Regions from separate parts of the Homo sapiens genome. Here region 2 is linked to region 1. The links come from fine-mapping of genetic effects on gene expression. A gene starts in region 1. The other region holds a variant in brackets. All regions are shown on one strand. Distances are from middle to middle.

What was found. PIP is the estimated chance that this variant, and not a neighbour inherited with it, causes the effect.
Region 2: its variant is fine-mapped to the expression of RAVER1 in whole blood (TOPMed, PIP 0.95).

What each region holds. Positions count from the first base shown.
Region 1 is chr19:10,331,747-10,334,647 of GRCh38, reverse strand. RAVER1 (ribonucleoprotein, PTB binding 1) reads left to right here and starts at 1,119. Exons shown (of 13, transcript NM_133452.3): 1 at 1,119-1,359. The coding sequence starts at 1,141. It overlaps ICAM3 (intercellular adhesion molecule 3), which reads left to right. Exons shown (of 7, transcript NM_002162.5): 5 at 1-120; 6 at 240-488; 7 at 589-872. The coding sequence ends at 791. RefSeq lists enhancers at 1-94, 719-858, 1,099-1,318, 809-1,725, 1,726-2,642 and a silencer at 1,491-1,714.
Region 2 is chr19:10,304,236-10,307,136 of GRCh38, reverse strand. It overlaps ZGLP1 (zinc finger GATA like protein 1), which reads left to right. Exons shown (of 5, transcript NM_001409033.1): 3 at 1,185-1,291; 4 at 1,654-1,747; 5 at 1,929-2,334. The coding sequence ends at 2,046. FDX2-ZGLP1 (FDX2-ZGLP1 readthrough) reads left to right here. Exons shown (of 9, transcript NR_176052.1): 7 at 1,185-1,291; 8 at 1,654-1,747; 9 at 1,929-2,334. Among named protein-coding and RNA genes, the nearest start is that of ZGLP1, 4.1 kb to the left of the region's middle. RefSeq lists an enhancer at 1,076-2,275. The variant C/T (reference allele first, on the strand shown) is at 1,369.

The DNA of each region.
Region 1 (2,901 bases):
CTCAACTTCAGCTAAATGCTACCGAGAGTGACGACGGACGCAGCTTCTTCTGCAGTGCCACTCTCGAGGTGGACGGCGAGTTCTTGCACAGGAACAGTAGCGTCCAGCTGCGAGTCCTGTGTGAGTCGGTCACCCTGACCTTTAATCCCTCCACCCCTGCCCTGGAAAGATTAGACGCTCCTCTGCACCACTGTGCCTCGGGTGTGTTGGGTGTCTGATCACACATGGTGGTTCCACAGATGGTCCCAAAATTGACCGAGCCACATGCCCCCAGCACTTGAAATGGAAAGATAAAACGAGACACGTCCTGCAGTGCCAAGCCAGGGGCAACCCGTACCCCGAGCTGCGGTGTTTGAAGGAAGGCTCCAGCCGGGAGGTGCCGGTGGGGATCCCGTTCTTCGTCAACGTAACACATAATGGTACTTATCAGTGCCAAGCGTCCAGCTCACGAGGCAAATACACCCTGGTCGTGGTGATGGACATTGAGGGTGAGCTAACACGGGGCTGCGGGTCTGGACCGGTAAGCCGGGGGGCGGGGGGGTTGGAGACAGAAGGGACGCATATTGACTTAGCGCTTTCTCTGCACAGCTGGGAGCTCCCACTTTGTCCCCGTCTTCGTGGCGGTGTTACTGACCCTGGGCGTGGTGACTATCGTACTGGCCTTAATGTACGTCTTCAGGGAGCACCAACGGAGCGGCAGTTACCATGTTAGGGAGGAGAGCACCTATCTGCCCCTCACGTCTATGCAGCCGACAGAAGCAATGGGGGAAGAACCGTCCAGAGCTGAGTGACGCTGGGATCCGGGATCAAAGTTGGCGGGGGCTTGGCTGTGCCCTCAGATTCCGCACCAATAAAGCCTTCAAACTCCCTAATCTGTGGTTTGATTCCACCCGCGCTGCAAGTCTCTCCCACCCAGGTGCACATCCACTGAGTAGCGTCGCTGCGACGGAAGGGGGCGGGGCCTGTGGCGCGCAGACGCAGCTTGAACTCTTGAGAGGTGGGCTGGGGCTTAGCCAACGGGGCAAGGGGGGCGGGAAGGAGGTGGGGTTTCTCCCAGCCAATCGACGGGCGCGCCCTCGTTGCCGCTCTATGCCGCTCCGCCCCGGCTCGCTGGTCCCAGAAGGCGCCGGGTTTCCCAAGATGGCGGCGGACGTGTCCGTTACTCACCGGCCCCCGCTGAGCCCTAAGTCTGGGGCCGAAGTCGAAGCCGGCGATGCCGCGGAGCGCCGGGCGCCGGAAGAAGAGCTGCCGCCTCTAGATCCAGAAGAGATCCGGAAACGCCTGGAACACACCGAGCGCCAGTTCCGTAACCGCCGCAAGATACTGATCCGGGGCCTCCCGGGGGACGTGACCAACCAGGTATTGGGGGGGGCGGTGTAGGAGCGTGGCGGGAAATACCACGGTGCGCGTGCGCGGGGGGAACCGGGCGACACCAACGCTGAGGTGCGCGGGGGTCGTTGGCGGGGGCGCCCAAGCACCGGATCCACGCGGGATCGGGAGAGACCAAGAGCGGGACGTGGGGGGGCGATGATGAAAGGGGAAACCGACTGCGAAGTGAGGGAGGGCGTTGCTAGGGGCGACCACAGGCTTGGGCGACACCAAGTGATGGAAGCGGGCGGGGAATGGAAGGGGGCGGACAGCTTTGGTCCTGTTGGGGAATTGTGAATGGGCTGGTACATTGGACCACCAGTTGCCCCCTGCTTGGATGATGCTTTTCTCCACCCACTCTACCACAGGGTGGCGGGACCTCACATCCAGAAGTTTCAGGACTGCGGAGAGTACGCCCCTCCATATCACGCGTTTATTCACTGCTCTCAGAGATAAATCCGGAAGTTAACAGCAGCCCCTGGGTCTCAGCCCCCAAAACCTCAGGATTAATTTGGGAAAATGGGGTCTTCTGCCACCAGCCTACAGACCTACAGGAAGGAAGCGAGGCCTGTGTTCTATGGAGCCCCTCGTGGCTAATCTTCCTGCTAGGAGTGCCCTTCTCATGGGGCCAGCATGGGGCAGCGCTTCCCAATGCTCTTTGGACCCAGGGAAATGGCATCTATACTGCCCTGCCCTATGGCGGTGAAATAGGTTCTCGCTTCCTGCTGCTGAGATTCCCTGCTCTCCGGCCCACCAGCACACCGGGTGGGCACGTGGCTAGTGGAACCCCAGGGATGTTGGGAGGGGCTGAATTTGGGGACAGATCGGGACAGGGATCATTAAGGATGGTCAGGTTTCTTTCTGGGTCTTCCTCTCAGTGTCTGCAGTCTCTCAGCTGGGAACACATTGTCTCTCCTGCAAGATGCACAGTGTGTCTGGTCCCAGCAGGCGCCAGCACTTTGCCTTCAAAGCTGGCTTGAGAGGCTGGGCATGGTGGCTCATCCCTTTAATCCCAGCACTTTGAGAGGCTGAGGCAAGAGGCTGTATTGAGCCCAAGGGTTCGAGACTAGCCTGGGCGGTATAGTGAAACCCTCATCTCTACAAAAAATTTTTAAAAATTAGCCAGGCATGGTGGTGCGTGCCTGTAGTCCCAGCTACGCAGGAGGCTGAGGTGGGAGGATCACTTGAGCCTAGGAGGTTGAGGCTGCAGTGAGCTATGATTGTGCTACTACACTCTAGCCTAGGTGACAGAACAAGACACTATCTCTAAAAAAAAGAAAAATAAATGAGCTGGCTTGGAAGAGGGCAGCTTTATCAGCAGGAGGAAATTGGGAGGCATGTGAACCCACACAACGTGGGGCTTACTAGAAGGTGGGCTCCCCAGTCAGGTACCCATGGGTGGCTGCGCTGCCCAACTGCATGGCCTCCAGCAGATCTCTTCACTTCTCCTAGCCTAAGTTTTCTCATATACAACATGAGTTTGTTAATACTTCACTTACAGAGTTGTTGGAAACAGTGAATCTTGCAAAAGGA
Region 2 (2,901 bases), 28 kb after region 1:
TTTGAGATGGAGTTGCACTCTGTCGTTCAGGCTGGAGTGCAATGACACAATCTCGGCTCACTGCAACCTCTGCCTCCCGGATTCAAACGATTCTCCTGCCTCAGCCTCTGGAGTAGCTGGGATTACAGGTGCCTGCTACCACGCCTGGCTAATTTTTGTATTTTTAGTAGAGATGGGGTTTTGCCATGTTGGCCGGGATGGTCTCGATCTCTTGACCTCAGGTGATCCATCTGCCTTGCCCTCCCAAAGTGTTGGGATTACAGGAGTGAGCCGCCACCATGCCTGGCTGCTTTTTTTTGCTTTTGTTTGTTTGTTTGTTTTTGAGACAGGGTCTTGCTCTGTCACCCAGGGTGGAGTGCAGTGGCGCAATCATGGCTCACTGCAGCCTGGACCTCCCAGGCCCAAGCCATCCTCCCTCCTCAGCCTCCCAACTAGCTGGGAGTGCAGGCCTGTACCACCACTCCTGGCTATTTTTTTTGTTTGTAGAGACGGGGTCTCCCTATATTGCCCAGACTCCCATCTCTTTTTAAAAATCAATAAATCAAATTTTCAAAGAAAAAAAAACTGTTGTATTGGGAAGCCCATTTTACAGATGAGGAAACTGAGGCACAGAGTAGGAGATAATGTGTCCAGGCTCACACAGCAAGGACATGGAGAACTGGGATTGGAACCTGGCAGGCTGTCCCTGTGCTTACTATTTTTCAAATAATAATAATAATAATTAGGTCGGGCACGGTAGCTCATGCCTGTAATCCCTGCACTTTGGGAGGCCGAGGTGGGTGGATCACTTGAGGTCAGGAGTTCGAGACCAGCCTGGCCAACATGGTGAAACCCCGTCTGTACTAAAAATACAAAAATTAGCTGGGCGTGGTGTCGCGCGCCTGTAGTCCCAGCTGCTTGGGAGGCTGAGGCTCAAGAATTGCTTGAACCCGGGAGGTGGAGGTTGTAGTGAGCTGAGATGACACCACTACACTCCAGCCTGGGCAACAGAGCGAGACTCCATCTGCAAAAATAATAATAATAATAATAATAATATTACTAATGAGAGGCAAAGCCAGGCCATTCAGATATTAGTTGCCTCCTCGGGGGATGGCTGATACCTTGATACTAAATCTTCATTTCGGAGGGCTGTTGGGGACAAGCTACAGATCCCCCCCAGTGCTAATACCTTGTCTGCCCCACAGCCTGCCCTGCAGTAGCCGTTCTCAGGAATCCCCTGCAGATGCTGTTGGGGGCCCTGCAGCCCACCCAGGAGGCACCGAGGCCCACTCAGCAGGCAGCGAGGCCCTGGGTGAGTCCTGAAAACCCAAGAGCTATAAATATTTTGGGGGCCAATTTCCTGTCTTCCCTGCCTTTCTCCCTGCCCCC[C/T]CCTTCTCCATCTTGCTTCCCCATTTAGAGCCCTCAGGGAGGAGTCGCAGCACCCCCCTCCACTTGGGCTGAGTCACCCCCACCCCCAGCTTCCTCCTCTGCGGAATGCTGCCATCTGTCTCCCTTCCTGGCTTTGCTGTGGCTTAGAGCTGGCAACTCCCAGGGCTGATCCAGAGCTAGGTGGGGCCTTTACTGAGACCCCCACAAAATGCCCGACTCCGCACAGGCATCCCGAGCTCACATGCTTGGCCTCTGACCCCTGCCCTTTGACCTCTGACCCTTCAGAGCCCCGGCGCTGTGCTTCCTGTCGGACCCAGAGGACCCCGCTCTGGAGAGACGCTGAAGATGGGACCCCTCTCTGCAACGCCTGTGGGATCAGGTCCTTAGAATGGAGGAGGGAGTTGGGGCGGGGGTCCCCAAATCAGTCCACGTGTAACCAGGATGGCCTGTGGGGAAAGCAAAAAGCAAAACACCTACCTCTTGGGAAAAGTGGTTTCCTTGTGGCGGTTTCCGGGCCCCCACTGCATCCTAAATGGCAGTTTCTTGTCCCCCAACCCTAGGTACAAGAAATACGGCACTCGCTGCTCCAGCTGCTGGCTGGTGCCCAGGAAAAATGTCCAGCCCAAGAGGCTATGTGGCAGATGTGGAGTGTCCCTGGACCCCATTCAGGAAGGTTAAACCCAGCTTCACCCTGCTGAGCTGCTGCTTCTGCCTCCGTTTCACCAGTGGGAGAATGGGCAGAAGCAGCTCTCCTAGGAGGATTGGGGAAAGAGCCGGCCTGCCTCCTCTCTGCCATCTCCAGATTCAAGGATCCCGGGGGAAGACCCAGGCCTCAGGTGGCAGAGCCTGCTAGGGGTCACCAGCCCCTTCTCCAGTCAGCCTTGGCCGAGGCCCCCTCAGGAGACGCTCTCAGGAAGGATGAGCATTGTTACAGCAGGGACAATAAAGTACAGAGATATGCCGAGAGAAAAAGCCTGTGATTTGGGATCCCGCCTCCTGTGCCCCTGTGCCAGCCCAGGAAGGTGGACAGGTGTTTTCTCGTTGGGGTTGTGAGGGGCGTGCACACACGTGCGCATGCACAGAGACACAGTCTTATCCACAGGCAGCAGCCCCCACACAGGGAATTAGCCACATTTACCACAATGTCCCATGCAGGGAAACAGCCACTACCCACAGACACACACAACAGATACAGAAAGACACACACAAGCCGGGTGCAGTGGCTCACGCCTGTAATCCCAACACTTTGGGAGGCTGAGGCAGGAGGATTGCTTGAGGCCACGAGTTTGAGACCAGCCTGGGCAACATAGTGAGACCCTGTTATATACAGAAGGGAAAAAAAAAGACACATGTCTAGCCAGGCACAGTGGCTCATTTCTGTAATCCCAGCACTTTGGGAGGCTGATGCAGGTGGATCACCTGAGGTCAGGAGATCGAGACCAGCCTGGCCAACATGATGAAACCCCGTCTCTACTAAATATGCAAAAATTAGCCAGGCGTGGTAGCATGTGCCTGTAATCCGAGCTACTTGGG